Homo sapiens: one gene and its partners. The protein of the gene in region 1 purifies or fractionates together with the protein of each later gene. This does not show direct contact. Each region holds a gene or a part of one and is shown on either strand. Other genes may lie near its edges.

What was found.
Region 2: the proteins of STRIP2 (region 1) and SMTNL2 purify together in Homo sapiens (co-immunoprecipitation; one large-scale study listed by IntAct). This does not show direct contact.
Region 3: the proteins of STRIP2 (region 1) and CYTH2 purify together in Homo sapiens (affinity purification with mass spectrometry; one large-scale study listed by BioGRID and IntAct). This does not show direct contact.
Region 4: the proteins of STRIP2 (region 1) and HPF1 purify together in Homo sapiens (co-immunoprecipitation; one large-scale study listed by IntAct). This does not show direct contact.

The regions. Positions count from the first base shown.
Region 1 is NC_000007.14:129,460,943-129,466,431, forward strand, and holds part of STRIP2 (striatin-interacting protein 2), read left to right. Parts: intron 1-1,645; exon of another isoform or gene 1,646-1,707; coding exon of another isoform or gene 1,708-1,788; intron 1,789-2,023; coding exon 2,024-2,098; intron 2,099-3,101; coding exon 3,102-3,199; intron 3,200-3,669; coding exon 3,670-3,796; intron 3,797-5,489. UniProt on the Homo sapiens protein: Plays a role in the regulation of cell morphology and cytoskeletal organization. Required in the control of cell shape. Calmodulin-binding scaffolding protein which is the center of the striatin-interacting phosphatase and kinase (STRIPAK) complexes.
Region 2 is NC_000017.11:4,582,403-4,588,518, reverse strand, and holds the start of SMTNL2 (smoothelin-like protein 2), read right to left. Parts: upstream 3,991-6,116; 5' UTR 3,914-3,990; coding exon 3,515-3,913; intron 1-3,514.
Region 3 is NC_000019.10:48,474,900-48,480,388, forward strand, and holds part of CYTH2 (cytohesin-2), read left to right. Parts: coding exon 1-50; intron 51-2,817; coding exon of another isoform or gene 2,818-2,820; intron 2,821-3,169; coding exon 3,170-3,246; intron 3,247-3,375; coding exon 3,376-3,447; intron 3,448-3,538; coding exon 3,539-3,693; intron 3,694-4,223; coding exon 4,224-4,311; 3' UTR 4,312-5,489. UniProt on the Homo sapiens protein: Acts as a guanine-nucleotide exchange factor (GEF). Promotes guanine-nucleotide exchange on ARF1, ARF3 and ARF6. Activates ARF factors through replacement of GDP with GTP.
Region 4 is NC_000004.12:169,743,487-169,748,975, reverse strand, and holds part of HPF1 (histone PARylation factor 1), read left to right. Parts: intron 1-133; coding exon 134-232; intron 233-5,489. UniProt on the Homo sapiens protein: Cofactor for serine ADP-ribosylation that confers serine specificity on PARP1 and PARP2 and plays a key role in DNA damage response.

The DNA of each region.
Region 1 (5,489 bases):
GCAGCCTTTGGAGATTTGAAGCAGGGGAGTGATATGATCTGATTTATGTTTCTAAAAACATTAGCTTCTGTGTAAAGATTGGACCAGAAAAGCATAGACGCACTCTACGGAGATTAGTTAGAAAACCCTTGAAATAGTCAAGGTGAGAGATGATGCCGACCTGGATTTGGAGATGTAGCTGACAAGACTTGCAGTGCATTTGGATGTGGATAGAGAGGCAAAGAAAGGAATCAAGAATAAGTACCATTTGCCAGGATGTGGGGGGAATATCAAGAGTTCTGTTTTGGTCATACTAAGTTTTAGATGCCCATTAGATACCCATGTGGAGCTGCAGGCAATTGGAAATAAAGTCTAGAATTCTACAGAGAGGGCTGACTTTGAGAAATAAATTCGGGAGTTGTTTGTAACACTTATAGGCAGTGTTAAAGGCCGTAGAACTGGCTGAGATAACCCAGGGAGGGAGTAGAGACAAAGAAGAGAATGGAAGGCAGGACAAAGCCCTGGGGCACACCAGTATGTTGAGGGGGGGATGTGTCAGGAAAGGAGCCAGAAGAATATGAAAGACAGTGAAGTGGCTGGAAATCCAGGAGATTATGATATCATCATAAAAGCTAAGAAAGTCTTTCAAGAAAAAAGGAGTGATCTGCTGGGTAAAATGCTACTAATAAGTGGCATTATGGTAAGAACCAAGGTGCCCATTGGATTTGGCAACATGAAGATAGTGACCTTGATAAGAACAACTCTAAGTGAAGTAGTGGGACTGAAAGCCTAATTGGAGTGTATTGAAGGGAATGTCAAAAAAGGAGGTAGATGATATAAAAGTTTTGTGAAGAGGAGAGAAAGTGGATGGTAGCTGAAGGAAAATGTGAGGTCAAGGGGAGGATGTTTTATAGCTGAGAGATACTAGAGCATTTTTTGTTTCCTAAAATAAGTGATCCAAGAGAGGGGATAATTGCAGGACTGAGGCATTCAACAAAGCAAATGGGTGTGGGATCCTGAGCACAAGTAGGAGACTGGCCTTTGTTAGAAGCACAGGCGGTTCATCCTTCATGTCAAGAAGGAAGGAAGAAGACTCTTGGTAGATTTGGTGTTGAGAAGATGAGTGTGTGCCTGTCTGATTGCTTCTGTTTTCTCCATGAAGCGTGAGGCAGGGTCAGCAACTGTTTAGGGATGGTGGGCAAAGGAGTTGGTTTGAGGAGAGAGAAGATGGTATGAAATCAGCCTTTTGGAGAGCAGGAAGGCAAACATGCCAGGATTGCCAGGCTCTGTTGAATGTCCATTTAGGACTTACGTCCATTTAAGCAGCAGATTAGTTGTGTGGGACAGAGGGAGGCGGGTTATTCTTCCCTGCCTCAGGGTCTCATGGCAGTGGCCCCTTGCCCTGTAATAGAGGGACCTTGTAGGAGGAAGGGAACTGCATTGGTCAAAGATGACAGTGGCCTGAGCAGCTTATTGGGTCCCTGAGACCCCAGCCTCCCCACTCTGATAAAAGGCTTAGTTAATGTCATCAACAGGACAGAGATAGTTGTATATGAGGGAGCTGGTCAGAAAGGAGAAAGTGATGTAGGGGCTAATGGAGAGGGGAAGAAAATCATTTCCATCCACTTAAAAGCTTCTTTGCTAATATTCCTTCCTGTTTCTCCAGTCCATAGGTTACCCAACTTCCTTTTAAACCCACACTATTGAGCCACCTACCTCTCCTTCCAGGCTTACAGAACGTTCTAGAGTTTTCAGCCTCAGATCCACACCATAGGAAGTGCTTCTGTAGCATCTGTTCCAGTATCCCAGGTACTGAAAGGTCATCCAGGCCAACCTGATGGTCCTATTAAAGAGAAAACTAGGACTCAGAAAAGGAATGTGACTTAACCAAGGTCACACAGTGAGTCATTAACACAGCTAGGGTAGAAACCTAGATCTGACTCCCAGCTTAGTGCTCTTTTCAGGTCACCCCTCACAACCAAGAAAAAAAAGCCTTTGGTCACCTGGAAAGTGGCATTGCCAAACCATGTATTTCTTGCCATAGGGGGAAGAGGTGGTACCAGAGACGCCATGTGAAATCCTCTACCAGGGAATGCTGTACAGCCTTCCGCAGTATATGGTAAGGAGATGGCTAGGCCAGAGCTGCCCTTCTCTGCTGCAAGGAACAGACAGCTAAAAACCATTTCAAGTGGACCTGTCCAACACTTGAGCTTGTTTCCTGAGCCTTTGCCCCTTTGGCAAGGCATTCTCTGACACATGCAAATTCTGAGCTTTCCTCAGTGCTCCTCTGATGGTGCTGTTCTCCCTAGTCCTTCTTTGGGAAGGGTGGGGAATAAGTTGGGGTCTCTACAGGATACACTGGGGACCCTCCTCCGAGATAAGTACTGTAGTCCCTCTGAGATCTGCTGTGGTCTGTCATGTCCTAGATAGCCTCAGGCTGGGAGTGGGGAAGATGCCAATGGTTCAGGTTAGAGGAAAGAAAAGAGTGGGAGAAGTTGGGTTTATGCCGCCCACCTTATTTCTACACACTGTCCCTCCCACTCTGTTCCTTCCATCTTCCCCTTTGAAAAGAACAGTCTTTTTTTTTTTTTTGAAGTGGAGTCTCACTCTGTCGCCCAGGCTGGAGTGCAGTGGCACGATCTTGGCCCACTGCAACCTCCACCTCCCAGGTTCAAGTGATTCTCCTGCCTCAGCCTCCCGAATAGCTGGGATTACAGGCACATGCCACCACGCCAGCTAGTTTTTGTATTTTTAGTAGAGATGGAGTTTTACCATGTTGGCCAGGCTGATCTTGAACTTCCAACCTCAAGTGATCTGCCTGTCTCGGCCTCCAAAAGTGCTGGGATTACAGACATCAGCCACCATGCCAGGCCCTGGAAAGAACAGTCTTGAAGCATAACAGCCAATGCACTCCCTCTGGCTTTCTCCCTAGCCTCACAGGCAGGCCTGTCAGGACTGGGCACCTGTTTGCTTTTCTGGATGCTGGGGAGATATGGTCATTGAGGGAAGAACTTACAGAATGGCTTTAAAACACTTTTTATAGGGCGGTTAGGGTGTGGAAGAATCACTTCCTTGCTGAGTGGGTTTGACAGTGGTAAATTTCTTTATTTTCTACTTCTCAGATCGCTCTGCTTAAGATTCTGCTGGCTGCAGCTCCCACCTCTAAGGCTAAGACAGACTCTATCAATATCCTGGCAGATGTCCTACCTGAGGAGATGCCGTGAGTGCTTCAACGGGGGCAGCTGCTGGATACTAGCTGTCTTATCTGCAGGCTCTCTCTAGTCCCCACTCACCTTGTTAACACTTACAGAGATTGTCTCCAAAGAGATCTCCCCGTCTCTGCCCACCAGTACCCCCTTTCCCGTACAGGGCTTTCTGCTTGGCTCTTTTTAGCTCAGAACTCTGGATCTGGAGGGTGACACCAGTGCCAGCGACTGGCTGCCCAGGTATTTGGGTGAACATTGCCAAGGGATGAGCTTGCCAAAAGAGAGACGGAAACAAAGAGATCAGTGGAGCATTTCTTCAGATAGGCTCATAAGTGGGAACTCTGGAGGTTTCCCTGGCACAGAAGTTCAAGTTTCCCAAGTTCTGGCTCTCTTGTGTATATTGTATCAGACCCAAATACCTGGATCCCTACAGGGCTCCCTTTAAGGCCACTCTCTGCACTAATACCTTCTCTCCCCATTGTAGCATCACTGTTCTCCAGAGCATGAAGCTGGGCATCGATGTGAACAGGCACAAGGAGATTATTGTAAAGAGTATCTCTACCCTGCTTCTGCTACTCCTCAAACACTTCAAACTCAACCATATCTACCAGGTGAGCAGCTAGGAGCACTTCTCCACAGGTCTTGGGTGTTTGCCAGGCCCTATCTCTCAAAGGAAGGATGCAAAGTCCCTTTTAATCCTGATGAGCATCTTTCAGCCTTTTCTTTGTCCTCTCTCAGGGAATCCAGCCACCCATTGCATGAGCTTGAGGTAGGGTTATGGAGTGGGAACTGTCCTAGAAAGGTGCAGATGTCTGTGTCCCTTGTAAGTTATCCCAGAGTTGTGGGTAGGAATCTCTAGCTTCTCAGGAATATGCCCAGCCAGTTTTTAAACAATGCAAGAGAGAATGTAAGCATTTCACAAAAATGGGGGGGTGGGGGGAGTATGTTGACCGTAGTTTTCTATATGTGAAGCACTTTTCCAACATTTGAGATATAATTCTGAGAATAGGGCACAGTTCTGGCTCTTCAGGGCCTTGAAACCTTATAAAGGATACAGATATATAAGTAGCCAATTATAGAGAGATAAGTGCACTGATACTGATAAGCACTGGTTGCTATGGAAACATCTAATCCAGCTTGAGGTGGAGAAGAAATGACTCCTAACCTGAGTCCTAAAAAAACAGATGTTAGCCAGGATATGGGAATTGTTAGGGAAGGAGGACAGGAGGCATTTCAAGCAGAAAAGCTAATATGCAAAAGTCCAGAGGGGGAAGAGAGAGAGCAAAGTACCTTTAAAAACCGTAATTAAATGTTGCTGGAGTTCTGCCTGGGGCGGGGAAAGATGGGCATGGTCTGGTGACACAGGAAGCTGGAGGAATCGGCAAGGAGCAAATCATAATCTATATGCTAACACACAATTACTGGGCACCTATCCTGTGCCCAGCACCCTGTTAAGTTTGTCTAGGCCCTCATTTAATTATCTCCACCCTATGAAGTAGTCTTATTTAATACCTCTTTTATACATGATGAAATCGAAGCTAAGAAAAATTAAGAAGCTGCTTTCCCGTAAAACATTGTTTGCCATGCTAAGGAGTTTGGACTTGGTTTCATGGGCATTGCCAAGATATAGGGACAAGATGGGGACAGCAAATGGATGCTCCTGTCTGTGAGGAGACCACAGGGAAAAAAGGAATGCTTCTCATTTTTGCCCAGAGGCTCTACCCCATTTTCCTCCTAAGAAGTCAGAATCAAGCTTGCTGGTAGAAGAGCAGGTCCTCAGAGTACAGAGAGGCTTCTGTAGGGTCTATGTCCATGGCCCTATCAACCAGGGTATTTTTCCACTTTCATACATTCGAAGACATCTTTGGGTATGTTTCATTGCCCTGAGTGCTCCCACTTTTGCCAGTGTTTGCTGAGCAGCAGCAGGGCTGGGAGGAGTAGTGGTAGGTAGGAGATAGTGTTTCTAGTGGAAAGAGAACAGAGAACTGTAGATGTGTGTTTACTTCTGCTTTTCTTGGTGGGAAGTATGTGGATTCACAGCCAGACAGGTGGATGGCTTGATGGGCCATGCCAGTGTGTCAGTGAATCCTGAAGGGCCACAGGCACATCTCAAACTGAAAAAAGTTTTCCATCAGATGATACTGGATATGTGTTGGCTCTTTTGTCTGGGGCTTTGGAAAATACCCTGGATTTTACAAATAAAATAAATAACCTTCCAGGGAGAAAATTTTGAACAGAAGAGAGAAGTAGTCTTGGCATAAACTGACTCCACTGCTCTAACTACATACCCAGGGCCATTAGGCA
Region 2 (6,116 bases), on another chromosome or scaffold:
GGAGGGGCCTCGGTATGCTGGGACCGGGGCAGAAATCGCTGGAGAGCCCTGGGGCTGGGGACAGGTCCTGTTGAGCTGGCCTGGTACCCCCCAAGATTCCCCAGCTCGGCTTTGTTTTGAGAAAGGGGAGGTGCCCCATGAGGGAGCCCAGGCCTGAGGCACTCACGGGAAAGGCGGAAGGGTGATGAGGTAAGTCTGATTTCAGGGACCTTCTTATTGGAAAAGCTTTTAGACATTTTTGTAGGGGAAGGAAGAATATTTCAGGCCTTCTGGGTGCTGCCTGATCTGCACGGGCCCATCCATGGGGACGAGACCCACGCAGGGCCAGAGCCCCATCCTAAGACAGTTCACACTGCTGACCCGGCCCTCCTCCACTCACAACACCGTTTGAAAGGACTTAATTCAAACTTCTCCCTAAAGCATTTAACTCTCTTATCGCACAGTGTGTCTGGGAAAGGAAGGCAGATAAGGCGAGTCTGGCTTCTTTCATGGTCGGGCCTCTGACATGGGGCTCCTGGCAGCTGTTCCTGGGGCCTCCGCTGCCTCGGGCATAGGGACCCAGTGGCTCCAGCTCAGCTGAGGATGACATTTCCAGGCCACAGCTCTGGCCCAACCTGCTGGGGCCTGGGCCTGGCCTCAAGCTGCCACCATCCACCCCCGGCCCCAAGCTGGCTCTCAGCTCCCTGCTCCCAGCCAGACAGGATTACTTGATCAACCCTTCCTGTATTGAGTTCAGGGGACATTTATATATTGGAGACAATCTACCTCCAATCCTTCAGTCCCCAGTTTGAAAGGAACTGGGTCTCTAAATGTCATTGCTTGTTACAGAGGGGTAGTGTGACACCAACCTCTACAATGCCAGGTAGTACAGCCATCCCTGGCTCATGTGGATGGGATGAGATTGTCCCACCCAGACCCCCACTACACAGACACAAAGTCTGAGAGGTCAGACACCCAGCAGCCTGGTGTGGGGCTGTGACTCTATGTCCATGGTCCACACTCCAGTCTCACCCTGAGCCCCGGCTCCTTGAGTGTGACCAAGCTCTTGATCACATCGTGCTGGTCACAGGACACGAGCCAGCACATGGGGATGGCTCCACACAGTCCCTCCTCTCAATGCTGGACACTGGTCTGGAGGCTGTGACAATGCTCCTGAGACGGAGGACAGCAAGAGAGATGGGGATTGGTGCTTCGGGGGTCAGCCCAGCGGCAGCTGCCTCAGGCCCCGGGAGCCAGGGCTCAAGGGGTGCAGAGCCTCTAACCCAACTGGGGACCATAGCCATGTTCCACCCACAGTGCTCAGCTACCCTTGCTGCTCATGCCCCTGGGTGCCTGGGTCTCCATCTTCACTCCCCAACAGGCCGACGCATCTTCACTGACCCCAGCCTCTTCTTCCAGGAGGGCTCCTTCTCTGGTTTGCTGAGAGTGCACTCAGGTCCTCCTCACTCCCTGGCAGTTCCCCGGTCTGGTTTTTAATTCCTTCAGACTCTTTGCTTCTGCCCAGAGAGCTCCCTAATCTCCAGGCTTGCTCACTGTGTGGAGCACCAGATCCATGAATCCACCTGCTCTGGGACAGCTTCACCTGGAGTTCCCATAGTCCCCTCATGTTCAGCACGACCCGGGTGGAACCCAGCATCTCACCCCAGATCTGTGACCCAGCAGTCCCCCAAGTCAGAGCTCCCCTCTGAGACTACCCCATCTGCTCATTCCCCCTCTGAAACCCTGTCCAAGGCAGCCCCTCTACACACCAAGGCCCACGGCCCAGCTCAGACCTTTCCTTTCTCCTTGGACCATCACAATCAAGTTACCCACCTCCAGCCACCCTCCACCTTCCATCCACCCCGAAGAGGGCTTGCCAGACACAAAGAAGACCCTCATCCTGAGCTTCATCCACCAACTCCTAACCTAGTGGACTAGCTTGGTGCCAGTGAACAATGGCTAATCTCCATTGACAAAAATCACGACTGGAGAGAATTCCCTCTCTCTCTCTCTCTCTCTCTCTCTCTTTGTGTGTACACACACATCTACATGTATATGTGAACCTGACATTTTTTTTTTTAATTTGGACAGCTGCTGCTATGAGCAGACAAATAGCAAATGCATGTTCAAATAAAACCTCAGAAACAACCGATGACACAGTTGATGAGGCACGTGTGAGCTCACAGTGGTGATTTTAGACCATGGTCACGTAGAGTGTCATGTTCATAAGACAGACTTAAGTGTATCCACATTTCCAGACATTTCACACGGAGCACTGGGACACTCCCGGGTTCTGCTACCATGACATGTTTAAGAACTTCTTACAGGCCGGGCAAAGCCCAACTCCTCTGCCCAGCACACTAGGGGCATTCGCCACTGCCCACTCCACTCGCATACCTCGAGGCTGCACTCACCAGTGAGTACTTTCAGCCTTTCTGAGGCTTCCTGCACAGCCCCCACCCCACCCTCATCTGCACCAGTAGCAGCAAGCCCCAGGCCCCCAGCACAAAGCCTTGCTGAGATACCCACTGAGAAGGGGCTAACTACTGTGTTTGGAGCAAAACATCTCTGGCTGCCCAAACTTGGTCTGGGGCCATCTCCCACCCTGGATGGGACCTCCAGGGGGAAGGCCCAATCTGATACCCTCCTCCAGGCCCCCTAGGGTCCAGCCCAGCCCACAGCGGGAAATCTGAGAGCCCCAGGGATTGCACCAAGGAGGGAGCAGGTGCAGGCTACACAGCCCCAGATCCTGGGAACCCAACCCGAGAGCACATGCCTGATCAGGATGGAAAATCCCACCCAAGGGCCACTGCACACACCATGGACACATTCTAACTGCTCTGGGTGGCCCATGCGCAAGGTAGTGACTGGTCCACGTCGGCCTCCGCCCTATCCCCACGTGGTGTGGGCCTCTGGCTAGTCACTGACCCGAGGAATCTAGACACGGCTCAAGGCGGGTTTCCACCTCTCTCCCTTCACGGTAAGGGATTTACCCCCTGCGATGGAGAGTTCCCAAAAGCCGCTGCTGATCGCGTCCCCCTCGACCCCCCTCCCCACCCATCCAGGGGCCTGAGTTCTCAATCTGAGTTAATCAATAACCAGAGCCGTCAGGCCTCAGTGAAGCGGCAACGCAGGGGAGCGTGAATGGAGGGTGGGGGTCAGGCAGGGGTGTCGACCATTCCAACATGCCCCGCGTGGCTCCAGGCAGTGCTGAACAGTCAGGGGCCGGACTTCGGCGCCCAAGCCGTTGATGTCATGGGACAGAGGAGAGAGGGAGACAGGACTCTGAGCAAACAGAGCCTGGCTCTAAAACAGGGCGGAGGACCAAGACAGGTGCAGCTGGCAGGCTCAGCGGTCCTCCCCCCGCCCTCTCCAACTCCGGAGGGGCGGCAGGACCCCCATCACCTAGTCCGAGCGGCCGGTGAAGGCCCCAACCCCGCAGACGCGAGCAGAGGCAGGCAGTCGGGGCGAAGGGGCGGCACCCGGTTCGGAGCCCCACTCCCTGGCGCCAGCGCACGCGCTCCCCCGGGCTCACCTGGCCGCGGCCGGACAGCGAGAAGGTGGCGTGGCTGGCGAAGCGTGCGCTGCCCAGGCGGGGCGCGCGGTCGGGAACCCCGGGCGCGGGCGGGGGGCTGGGCGTGCCGGGAGTGCCGGGCACCGGGGACATCCCGCTGGCCAAGCCCAGCGCCTCCACCTGGCGCGTCAGGCGCTCGAGCTGCGCCTGCAGCCGCTGGTTGTCCCGCTGCAGGTCGGCCACCGTGCGCGCCAGGGGGCCGGCCAGGCGCATCGCCTCTGCCACTCGCCGCTCCACGCCGCGCTGCAGCCCCCGCATGTCCTCGTGCAGCGCGCGCACCGCACCCTCCAGCGCCGCCTCGTAGCGGCCCAGCGCCTCGCGCACAGTGCGCGCCTCCTGGGCGTCGGGGGCCGGCTCCATGGCCCAGCAGAGCGCGCGGGTCGAGAGCGGGCCAGACGGGGGAGAAGATCCGAGCTCCGCAGCTCCGGGCCGCGACTGGCCGTCCGTGGCTGGCTTCGCTCGAGGGGCTGCCGGGGAGGCGGGCGCGGGGCGGGGCCTCGGGGGCGGAGCCGGGGACGACTCCGGGACACCCCCCTGCCCTGGAGCCCAGCGGGACGGTGCGGAGGGAGAGCTCGCCCAGCCTCTCCCCTCCCCGGCTCTTAACTGAGCCCTGCGACCCCGGAGGAGCGGCGTGCGGCCTGCGGGAGGGGCGGCGGGCCCACCCGAAGAAGGCCCTGGCCCCCCTGGACCGTAGAGAGCACACCCGGGCTGACGCGTTCGCTCGGGACTCTCACCCGCAAGGCCCAGGTTCCTCCGGGGGCGGAGACTCCCGGGCTAATGGGGACACCTACAGCTCCCACAGCTGCCGCCCCACTCCGCGGGGCCCTCCCTATGCAGCGGCCACGGCTCTCGCAGGCACACGCTCACCTGTGGGACCTTCGCCTGGAATTTCTTGTATCTGTTCTAAGACCTCAGGGAGGAGACAGGTGGTGAGGTCCCCTCCCTGACTCTGCGACTACGCGCTGTCCCCTCCCAGTCCTACTCTGTATAGCAAGATCTTCGTGCCCTTCCCACTAGTGGTCGGTAGAGGCTCCCGACCCACCAAGGGGCCTCCGTTAGGAGATCCTGGAGAGGCTAAGGGCAGACAGAGAAAGAAGGGTGTGCTGGAGCTGCATCTCCAAATCCTGGAATGGGCGGCTTTGCGACTAATCGCCCCCTCCCGCAATGAGAGTCTCAGTCACTGGCCTCTACCCGTAGGCCAGGGGTCTTACCCCTATTCCTTCTCAATGCTCTTTATGGCTGAACCCAGATAGTTCCCCCTTCCAAATGCACACCCCAAACCATCACCAGAAAAGGGAAGAAGGGAAACAGGTGTTGCTTTAGGACGATGGGATGATGGGCAAAGCTAACTCTAAGTTTTCGCTATATCATAAAGCTGATTTAAAATAAAAATGAGAACATATCCTCCTTTGTGCAAAAAACCTTTCCTAATTGGCCTTCTTTTTCCCAAGCCTGGCCTGCCTGAAAGAGGCCCAGAGGCTGGGCATGCATAGCCAGCTGACCTGCAGGAAGGAGAAGTCTGAAAGGCTTGTTCATATCATGTTCTGCTCCCAAGGTTGTTTGGAGCCCACAAACCCTCCTGGACTGGCCATCATTGCCCCAAAGGAACTGGAGCAGCCTGACAGATGCTAAATGCTGGTTCTCTCCCCCGCCCCCAGCCCCAAGGGGACAGGAAGGAACGCTGGGTTACCTAATCCAAGGAGCCTTCCAGCAATTATTTCATGAAAAAGGCAAATGCCAAAAGGTGTGCATGCTGCATATATGTGTGAGCATGTGTGTGCATTCCAGGTAGCCATCTGGACAGGGTGAGCCAAACTGCTCCCTGAATGCTTTCTCCAGGTGGAATCTTTAGTAGCAGCCTCCAGAGACGCTGCTGCTGCTCTTGCCGCAGACAGCACTCAAAGCCCCTCCAGGTCTCAGCACAAGAACCTGGAGTTCAAAAACCCTGGTCTCAGCCACAGAAGCCCAGTCCCTTCCCTTCTAAGATCCAAGGAAGGACCGTGTGGAGAAGCCTTGAGAGGGACTGGACAGGCTGGTCTCTAGGCTTCTCTCCATCCTCCGGGAGAAGGCAGGCTGGCTGGGCCATTGGTGGGAAGCCTGGCAGGGAGGAGGAGGTGACAGATCGTAGAGCCTGTGGCTGCCTGGGATCCATCCACACTCTCCAGCCTCAGGCTAGTTATCTGGTCTCTCCTGAGCCACATGGGAATCTCTAGGAGGAACTTCTCGGGGACGGGGCATGGCTGCTTCTGGGGCCGAAGGCGGGACTCTGTCAAGGGCAGAGATGGGGGCTCACTGTGGGTTCTGGGAAGGCAGATGGTACAAGACCATCCCCCTTGGCTCCTTTTTCTCAGCAGTCAGATCTCCGAGTCAGTAGCTGGAGATGCACCCAGGAGAGGAGAGAAGAGCCAGGAGCATGAGGAAGAGAGTGATTCTGGGGTGGGAAGGGGGCGGGATGGAGGGTCAGCACCACCCTCCGACCTGGCTCCATGACAGATGGACCGAGGCTGCAGCTCTGTTCCCAGGCCCAGGGGCTCCTGTGAGCCTTCCCTGCAGGCCCCTCCCC
Region 3 (5,489 bases), on another chromosome or scaffold:
GACCCACACCTTCTTCAACCCGGACCGGGAGGGCTGGCTCCTGAAGCTGGGTACGTGCCCTCCCGACCCCGCTGGTCCCTCCGCAGGAGGACATTTGTGGGCCTGGGCCCTGGACTCAGCTTCCGCACACACCTGCTGCCTGAACTGAGGCAAATGATTCGACCTCTCTGAACCTCAGTTTTCCACACCCAAAAAATGGGGCTGAAAATAAAATCAGGCCTGTGTGCTGGGCCTGGCCTGTAGTAAGTACTTCCCAACCCCTTCTCTTGACCCACAAATGTTGATGGAGCCCTTCTGTGCCAGGCCCTGAGCTGGGCTGAGGAGGCAGTGAGAGGCAGCTGACATTGTCCTTTCGTGGGAGAAGAGTTCACTCAGGCTTCTTTCCACTGCGTTAACCCAGCCCGAGGGAGCCAAACCCCTGGAATCTATTCCCCTTGGCAAGAACTCCCAGGGTTCCAGGCAGGACTGACCCCGCACTCCGAGGCATCAGGCCCAGAGCACTTGGCTGATCCAGGTGCCATCCTTCCCGAAACACCACCCACAGGCAGAAAAGAGCCAAACAGGCCAGGAAACCTGTCCCAGATTCTGGCTTCCAGCTGTGGAGGGAATAGCCAGGGCTGGTGCAGATGAGTCGGGAAACCCAGCAGAGATGGAGGGGGGAGTCTTCGTCATAACACGTGGCACTGGCACATTCAAGGTCGGTTAGCATGGATCAGACAGGATCGTAGCATGATGAGGGGTTAGCACAAGGACTAGAGTGGTTCTCAGCCCTGGCTGTACATGAGATTTGCCTGGGCAACTCGAAAACTCCGGTGGCTGGGCCATAGACTCCTGAAGTCAGGCTCTCAGGAGCAGAAGGGCCATCAGTCATCGTTTAAGCTCCTCGGGTGCTCCCAATGCATAGTCAAGGTTGAGAGCTACTGGCCTGGAGCCGTGCCTGGTAACAGTAGGTGCCACCTGCGTGTTAGATGTGGTTTATAATGGAGACACGGTGCACAGCTGCTCCAGAGAGACACATCTGGGCAGTTACAGTCCAGCACAGCAGTGGAGGCTTCCCGCGGCAGCAGGAGAGCCCACAGGAAGCTTTCAGCTCAGTGAAGGGAGTCAAGGTCAGGCTTCTTGGAAGGAGGTTGGACAGGGCAGCTTTGGCCTCTGAGTCTTGGGGGCCTCCCCATGTGGAACTGTGCTCTTAAACCAGGGCATCACCACCTCAACAGATGCCAGGGTTTCCTGGTAAATGTAAAATACACAAGTCAGGCAGGGCACAGGGGCCCACCCCTGTAATTTCAGCACTTTGGGAGGACAAGGCAGGAGGATTGTTAGAGGTCAGGAGTTTGAGACCAACCTGGGCAATATAATGATACCCCCCATCTCTACAAAAAATAAAAAAATTAGCCAGGCATGGTGATGTGGGAGGATTGTTTGAGCTCAAGTGGTCGAGGCTTCAGTGAGTCATGGTTGCGCCACTGCAGTCCAGCCTGGGCAACAGAGCGAGACCCCGTCTCTATAAAATAAAACATGCAAATCACTGTCCAGCCAACACCCCAGTCCAGATCCCTGCATTCGATCCAAGGGAGGCAGACTGCTGGGGGAAATTGAGAGTCCTCGAGGTGCCCCTGGCAGTGAGCGGGCCAGAAAGAGAAGCAGGAAGGCGCCAGCATCACGAGGAACTGCTTCCCTCAAAACTGCTGTCAGGCCAGGCACGGTGGCTCAGGCCTGTAATCCCAGCACTTTGGGAGGCTGAGGCAGGCAGATCACTTGAGGTCAGGAGTTTGAGACCAGCCTGGCCAACATGGTGAAACCCCGTCTCTACTAAAAATACAAAAATTAGCCGGGCGTGGTGGCAGGCACCTGTAATCCCAGCTACTTGGGAGGCTGAGGCACAAGAATTGCTTGAACCCAGGAGGTGGAGCTTGCAGTGAGCCGAGATCACACCATTGCAAATCCAGCCTGGACGACAGAGCGAGACAGTCTCAAAAAAACAAAACAAAACAAAAACTGCTCCTGTGAGCAGTAACTTTCCCATTTCCCAGAGGCTCACGCCTCAGTTTGGTTCTGAGCCCCACCTAAGGCTGCCCAGCCCCAGGGACATCTCTGACCAAAGGGCCTCTGTTCCCTTTGTGCCAGTTAGAGGGACCCCTTCCTTAAAAGATGGAAATACAGGAGTGGAGATTGGTGATGGTGGTTGCTACTCCATGCCTAATAAAAGCCATTCTTACTGTCATTGTTTAACCCTGGGCCCACAAGGAAGCCAGCAGCAGGTCATTTTGCCACAGGAAGGTGTAGGCCCGAGTGAGTCTCCAGGCTGGAGTCCAGAGAGTCCAAGAGAGTGCCCTGAGGTCACACAGCCAGTTTGTGCAGGAGCTGAGATGGGCCCTCACACCCACCTCAGACCAAGGGCTGGGGGTTTTGCCTTCTGTCCTGTGGGGGCCTCCTCCAGGGCAGAGGCACTTTTACCATGTCAAGGGAGGATGCTCCTGGCCTAGGACAGACCCTAGGGGGTAGGCTGGGGCCCTGTACCGAAGCAAGGGGTTTTCAAGGCTGCCACCCGGGGCTCATGGCCCTTGGCCTCTCTGGGAGGGAGGAGCCCCGGCCATCCCCACCCTCGTGGATGTAACTGGTTTTCTTCCCTCTCTCTCCCTCCCCTCCTCTCTGCGTCTTTCCCTCTCTCCTGTGTTTGCCTCTCTGTCCTGCCCCTGCGCACCCCTCCCTGTGCCCACCCTGTTTCTGTCGCCTGCGGCTCTTGGGGGTGCTCCATTCTCCCGCCTTCCCTTCTCCTGCACCTGGTCCTGCCTGCTTTCTCGCTGTCTGCCCCAGGAGGTAGGTACACGACCTGTCTTTGTCTCCCATCACTAGACGAGGGGAGGGGGCTGCCCTGGCGCCCTGGCGCCCTGGCCTCCTGCCCACAGGAGGAGGGGGCTGGGGGCTCAGGCTCCTGGGCTGGGACTGACAGACTCAGAAAATGTGGAGCCCCAAGCTGGGGGTGGACGATTCCTGGAGCCCCAACATGCCTGGCCCTGCTTGTCTGTCTCCCCCAACGCAGCGGCTTTGTCTAGGCCCCAGGAGCCCCACCTCTACCGCTCTTGCTCTGCTTCTCACGCCCCTCCCATCTCCCAGAGGCCCTGTCCCCCTGTTGAGCCCAGGCCCCCTCCCACCCCTTCCCTTTCAGGGGGCCGGGTGAAGACGTGGAAGCGGCGCTGGTTTATCCTCACAGACAACTGCCTCTACTACTTTGAGTACACCACGGTGAGCGTGACCCGACCCGGGCTCTGGGGTCCTGGGCGGAGTGGCTGGGAGCCTGGACTCCTGGGGCTGAGGGAGGTGGGGTGGGGTGAGGACTTGGAAGTCTGAGTTCTGTCCACCTTGCTTCTTCAGGACAAGGAGCCCCGAGGAATCATCCCCCTGGAGAATCTGAGCATCCGAGAGGTGGACGACCCCCGGAAACCGGTAAGACCCTCTCTGTACACCTTCCTGCCAGGGCGGGGCCTCCTCTGCCCAGGGCTGGTTCTTACCTGCGCCCTTCCTCTCTCGTCCCCAGAACTGCTTTGAACTTTACATCCCCAACAACAAGGGGCAGCTCATCAAAGCCTGCAAAACTGAGGCGGACGGCCGAGTGGTGGAGGGAAACCACATGGTGTACCGGATCTCGGCCCCCACGCAGGAGGAGAAGGACGAGTGGATCAAGTCCATCCAGTGAGCCTGGACTCCTGGGCCTGATGGAGGAGGGGCTGGGGCCTGGACTCCTGGGTCTGATGGAGGAGGGGCAGGGGCCTGGATGCCTGGGTCTGATGGAGGAGGGGCTGGGGCCTGGACGCCTGGGTCTGACGGAGGAGGGGCTGGGGCCTGGACTCCTGGGTCTGACGGAGGAGGGGCAGGGGCCTGGACACCTGGGTCTGACGGAGGAGGGGCCGGGGGCCTGGACCCCTGGGTCTGACGGAGGAGGGGCCGGGGGCCTGGACTCCTGGGTCTGACGGAGGAGGGGCCGGGGGCCTGGACTCCTGGGTGTGAGGGAGGAGGGGCCGGGGGCCTGGACTCCTGGGTCTGAGGGAGGAGGGGCCGGGGGCCTGGACTGCTGGGTCTGAGGGAGGAGGGGCCGGGGGCCTGGACTCCTGGGTCTGAGGGAGGAGGGGCCGGGGGTCTGAGACTCCTCCTGGGTATGAGGGAGGAGGGGCTGGAGGCCTGGACTCCTTGGCCCTCATCCTGGGACCCCTCCCCTTCTGCAGGGCGGCTGTGAGTGTGGACCCCTTCTATGAGATGCTGGCAGCGAGAAAGAAGCGGATTTCAGTCAAGAAGAAGCAGGAGCAGCCCTGACCCCCTGCCCCCAACTCCATTATTTATTACGGAGCTGCCCCGCCTGGGTGGCCGGACCCCTGGGCCTTGGGGCTGTGGATCCTGGTTCCCTGTTTGGAAAATTCACCACCTCTAGCTCCTCACTGTTCTTTGTAATTAACACGCTGTTGGTAATCTTATTAATTATTTAACCACTTGGCCTGCTGACCCCCTCATTTCTTGGGGTTGACAGAGTCGAGGTGCTCCGTGGAGCCAGCCTGTTTCCCTGGACAGGGGCCTGGACCCGCCTGTCTCTGGGTGCTGCCTGGGCTGTCCCGGTGGGTCTGTTCTGGTTTCACCCCGAGCCCAGCAGGAGTGGAGTAAAGGGAGAAGGTTAATATGGTGGGAGTCTGGAGTTGGAATTGGCCGGGGACAGAGTTTAGAATGCAGGGATTCAGGGTCAAGGTCTAGCATTCATTCTAGAAGTTACTTGACAGCCATCAGCCAGTTACGCTACAGCCATCAGCTAGTTCCCATCGTTGCTTTCATGGGGCTTGAGGTCTTTGAGGGGCAGGAGATGAAGCTGGTGAGGTTGTGAGCTGGGCCAGGGCTTTGAGGACAACCTGGAGCTGGAAGAACATGCGACCACCTCAGGGAGGGTCAGGGAAGGATGAGTGGGGAGGTGGCCCATGTCCTGCAAGGGCCTTGCTGATGGGATGTCCTGAAGGGCTGGGCAGCCTTAGATCGGGCTAAGAGGGCAGGACTGTGGGCCAGTGCCAGAGCCAGGCTTGTCTGTTCTCAAAGGATCAGCCTCCTTTGGAGGACATTTTGTGTCAAGGATAGGGCTGAGGACCTGCGTTCTGAACGTCTTTCCTGGGATTCTTGACAGCCAAAGAAATTCGAGGATCGCCTCTATGAAGGTGAAGTCTTGGCATGTGGGGTACCCCTGAATCCTGGGCTAAGGTCTGTGACCTTTTGCCCTCCAGTTGGGGTATGTGTGGTGTCCCCAAAGAACAAGGGCTCGTGGATCCCGAGCAGGGTGCGATGGCGGATTGGGAGGTCCCATGTCACTCTCCCATGCCCGCCTTTGAAGCTGAGGCGCTCTTTAGTTAACAAACTACAAGTCCCAGCAGGGACCGGGACGCGGGTGGGAGAGGCGCCTGTGGCCCCGAGGCGTGCCGCGAGTTGTAGTCCCTCCTGCCCGCTGTGTTCGCTTTTGA
Region 4 (5,489 bases), on another chromosome or scaffold:
GATTAAAAAAAAAAAAAGGCCTCCAAAAAGGAAAAAAAATAGGTGTAAATTGTTGTCTGTAGACCTGAAATCCCACTTGCCTGATAATATAAATTATGGGCAGCTAAATTTTTAATGTCTTTTGCTTACACAGGGATTCTCCTGATGAATTTCCTGTATATGTTGGTATAAATGAAGCAAAGAAAAATTGTATAATTGTTCCAAATGGAGATAATGTATTTGCTGCAGTCAAGTAAGAATATTTTAATTTATATTTGTTTACAATGTTTATACTACATTAGTCCATTACAAAGGGGGTTTGAGGGGCTGGGCACAGTGGCTTACACCTGTAATTCCAGCACTTTGGGAGGCCGAGGTGGGCAGATCGCTTAGGTCAGGGGTTCGAGACCAGCCTGGACAACATGGGTATACCCCATCTCTACTAAAAATACAAAAATTAGCTGGAGGCATGGTGGCACACACCTGTAATCCCAGCTACTCAGGAGGCTGAGTCAGGAGAATTGCTTGAACACAGGAGGCGGAGGTTGCAGTGAGCCGAGATTGCGCCACTGCATTGCAGCCTGAGTGACAGAGTGAGACTCTATCTCCAAAAAAAAAAACAAAGCGGATTTGAGACAAGCCCATAATTGTAGATTTCTAGAGATAATTTCCATGACTTTTGCAGGTAGTCTTATCTATACTGTTATTTTGTGCCTCTTCACCAAAAAAATACACCTCTTATGTAACTATTTTACTTAACGAAAATAATACTTGACCTCAGGTGTTCCATGGCAACATCAACAGTTTTGTTAGACATCTGATTTTAAACACCTGTTAAGAGTTTATTTCTTATGTATGGTTCAAACAGAAAGGCTTAATAAAGTAAAAAGAGGTGGTCATTATATCCTTGGAAGGGTTGAGGGAGCAGGCTGAGCTTCCAGGAATGACAGTTGTGTGGCTCACAGTGGATTTTGTCTCTGCCACCATCAGGGAGCTGGGAATTCGAGAACTGCTGCCACAGTGAGTGGCTCTAGGACCACATTATCTTTGGTATAATCTGGGCCAGGTAAATGGATGCCCTACTCTTTGCCTCTCAGCCCCCGTGAAGCTAAGAACCAGGTGCTGGGATCTCAGCTACAGCTGCTGCAGAACCATCAGATGCCTCTACAGCTGTGCTCATTGATGGAGATCGTGGAAGCACAGCCTCCATGTGGTATCTCTTCTGCCTCTGAGATTTCAAAGTATTGCAGCTGCTTGGAAGAAGATAGGTCCCATGTGGAGCCTGAGCTAAAGAGTAGTATGGGAAATGCAGTGAACTTTCATGGGGAAGGGGTTGGAATAGAGGTGAGTGAGCCAGTCTGTGCTATATCAGCCACAGACATGACTTGAAGCCATTTTATTTGTCAGCAGCTGTGTAGTTTGCATTGTAATGAAGAAAGCAAACTTTATCACTTCAAATACAAGTAGATTATCTTTTCTTTGACCTCTTTTAGTACTGTCTCTTTAAAGGGCTGTTGTTCCCTGTGATTTGATCATACAAATTTGCAGTAAAGTGAATTCAAACTAAATCACCCTACTACAACCACTAGACTATGCTACGTACATACTGGTGTATCTACAAGGCAGCTACATTGTAGATGTCCAAAAATGTTCTTTCTTTTCTAATACCTCTCAGTTTCCTATAAAATGTTACTTGGTATTTGTAATTTATAACTTCTTTTAAACTCTTTGGATTTATCATTCAATTTAAATTGGTGCCATCTTTATTAGAAACTCTTGTTGTTTTCTTGCTTATTGTCTGTCTCTTGCACTAGCATGTTAAGTTCCACGAGGGCAGAGTATCTGCCCCATACTAGATGCTCCATAAATATTAATTCTATAAATACCTTGGCATGTAAAAACACCTAATTTTTTCAGGCTGGGCAACATAGTGAGACTGTCTCTTTTTCGAAAAACAAGCCTAACTTTTCATTTGTGTTATTAGTCATGTTTTTTTTTTTTTTTAAAAAAAGATAACATAATAGTGGTCATGTAACATAACCCAAGACTCTTCTGGTATCTTTTTTTTTTTTTAAGCTAATTGGAGAACATAGACAATGAAAAAGAAAAAAAAAATGCATGGGTGATATTTATAACTTAGGTGAAGATCAGCAAGTGAGTATTTGAGGAACTACCTCCAATAATTTATCTCAAACAGGGGTAAAAAATTACTTGAGATATAACTATTTTAGTACTTTTAAAGTATTATAACGGTTTTAGTTTTTTAGGTACTACCTCCTTAAATCAGCTAACCAGAACACTTAATTTCTTTATATATTTTAAAATTTATTTTTATGGCAGACTGAATAAGGTCTTTCAAGGCATACCTTTGATCAACACATTTTTATCTTTAGTTATTATTAAATCTTGTGTCTGCAAGATTTAATAGTAACTAAAGAAATGCCAATTTAACCAGCAAAGATTTTTTTTAAAGGTTAAAGAATGGTAATAACCAATGATGGTTAGGGTATAAGAACCCTTACTGATGTGTTAATTGGTAAAACTTTTGTAGAAAGCAGTTTGAAAAATGTTTAATGTTAACATTTGAAAAATGTTAACTTAGAAAGCATATTCTAAGATTTCTTAATAGGTGACATTGTCAGGTACTATGTGAAGTACACATTTATACCCTTAAGTTAGCAATTTCACTTCTAGCTGTTTATTAAAGGGATTTTGGACAGGTACAGAAATATGTGTATTACAGATTGTTTATCAAATGAAAAATTGGCAACATATCCAGCAATAGGGAAGATTAGGTAAATATAAACTATCCATATACTATAATACTTTGGTATTGATTTGTTGAATTTGTTATGAAGTGGGCAAATAACAATAGTGTAGAATGATTCCATTTCATACTGTCTAATGCATATGGAAGTAAACATAATTCTTAAATAACTTTGAACAACAAAGGAATGATTTTTTTTTTCCTTCTGCCTTATTTATTTTCCTAAAATAACTGGGGTAAACAGTTTTGACCTTGGGTCAGGGACCCTTAAGGTCAAAACTATTTGTGATAATAAAATGTTATTTTTGCACCAATGGCACAAAGTAAATAGTGGATAATACTGTTGTCACCTTGGCAGGAATCAAGATAGTGCCACCAGGGTAGCAGCAGTCATTGCATTATTCACAGCAGTAACATGCAAATGTATTTAAAAATGTTTGTGATGGAGCCAGGCATGGTGGCTACTCGGGATGTTGAGGTGGGAGCATTGCTCGAGCCCAGGAGTTCAAGTTCATCCTAAACGACATAGCAAGACCCTGTGCCTGAAAAATGTCAGTGTTGGAGTATACATGTATTAGATGTCTACCATTGAGTTCATCTCTTTAACATTCTGTGATGAAATAGGAAATACATAGAAAGCATTTCTCATACTGAAGTACTGTGGTTTGTCTCAAGGGAAAAAAAAGCCCTTGTATGATTGAATTTTGAGATGAACTTTTCCCCACTTTTAGAAAGAGTGACTCATTGACTGTGTGCCTGTCAAGATTCCCTCTGGTTTTCTGGCTAGAAAGCTCACCCATTTCCAGTTTCTAAGAGTCAGTTCAGTGGCAGAGCCACCAGGGACAAGTAAGACTCTTGGGGGTGCTTTGACCCTGCCTACCTGGGAGCACACTTTTCCCTTCCCTGATGACCTGGGATGGTGGCCAGGCCGTGCCCTTGCTGTCGCTGGGCAGTGTCCTTTTGGAAAGGGAGCTGCCCCAGGGTTTAGTGCAGCTGCCAACCCTGTTAGGCCCGGCCTCTCGAGGCCTCTTCCGACTTCAAGGGTCACACACCCCCAAAGATCCTCTCACCCATGGTAGTTGCTGTGCATGGTTCTGTCTGTCCGTGCACCTATGCACACACACCACCCCACCACCCTACTCTGAAATTGGCGAGTGAGTTGAGAGCCAGCTCTGTGGGGTCATCCCGCAGCCATGGTTGTGCCTGTCCTTCATGGTGGTCTTTCAGGTTATCTTGGCAACATGTACATTGCTTTTCTTTTTTTTTCTTATTGTACAGTCAGTACTATAAAATTTCTCTTTGAGTTTTATACCTTTGTAGCATTTTAGATGACATTGTGTTTGTACTTTGTTGTGTAGAGTGGAAGAATTGTGTTGAATAAACCCAAGATTGGAATGCAAAAAAAAAAAAGAGTGACTCATTGACAAACTGGTTATTTGGGTCTAGCTACTGGCAGGAATTCTCTCAAATGAACCAAAGAAAACAACTGACTATATTTTTTGTCAGTGATAAAATTCAGGGTTTCAAATAAAAATTAGATTGAGAAACTTGTAATACCACTGTGAGCGCAATAGCTTTTTTTCATAATGTTATGTAATGAATTTGATATATAAGTTTCAACACTTACATCTATATAACTTAGTAAACCACTATTTCCAAAGGGCCATTGCATGATGCCATATAACATGCATGGGTACAAATTCATTTGCGTTGAAGACATTCTAATGGATTTAAAGTCACAGCACAAAATGTTCACGTTCATGGTTATGGCTTCAGTTGCACATCGCACCTTATCTTTAAGCATCACACAGTAAAGTGTTAGAGTAGGTTTCGGCAGAGACAAAAACTTACAGAGATAGTCATAATAATGTCATATGTATGGGAAGGCAGCTACCAAGTGCCTTCAATAGTGGCAGAGGTAAAAGAGGATATTTTATGTGGGCTTTGATGGATGCCTAAGAACTTACTAGAAAGAATGGGAAGAAGGATGTTTTAGGTAAGGGAGCAGTATGTGTGTGAAAGTGTGAAAATACGTGGCACAGGGTACTTGAATGGCTATATTGCCGTGCCAGAGTGTTGAGGAAGACTGTAAAGATCGATTGATTCACATAGGACTGACATGATCAAATCTGTATTTTATGGTTGATATAAAAATACCCTCTAGACATACAGCTGGTAATAATTGAAGGTAAGATTTAGTGTAACCGTGTGCTGTAATCAGAAGTTAGATTTTGATGGCTTGGGTTTCTGTGGCATTTTAATCTACCAGTTCTACTGGTAACTCTACGGGTTTAATCTATTAGCTCTCTCAACTTGGGTAAGTTGACTATCCTCTGTGCCTTTTTTTTTTCCTGATAAGTACAATGAAGCTAAGACTAGCACCCACTATAAATGTTCTAACTCCCTAACAGTGTTGCAGGGAATACTACAAACTCTCAGATGTTGGCAGTGAATAGAAGTGAGTTTCTTCCTAGGAGTTGTTACTCCCTCAGCCTTCTTCCTGGAAGTCTGGCACACTCTTGCCGCTCTTCATTTTACTCCTGACCTTTTATATTGATGGCAAAAATCTTAACCTGTTTATGACAAAATATAAAATTATTTCCATAAGTGGCATTAACATGATATATATTCACATACTTTTGAGAACTACTTTGGATTATGCTTTTGTATAAGCTTACAAAGTAGCTTTGCTTTCCTTTTGTGTTTTCTAAATTTTTCTTAACACAAACTTCAACATTAAAAA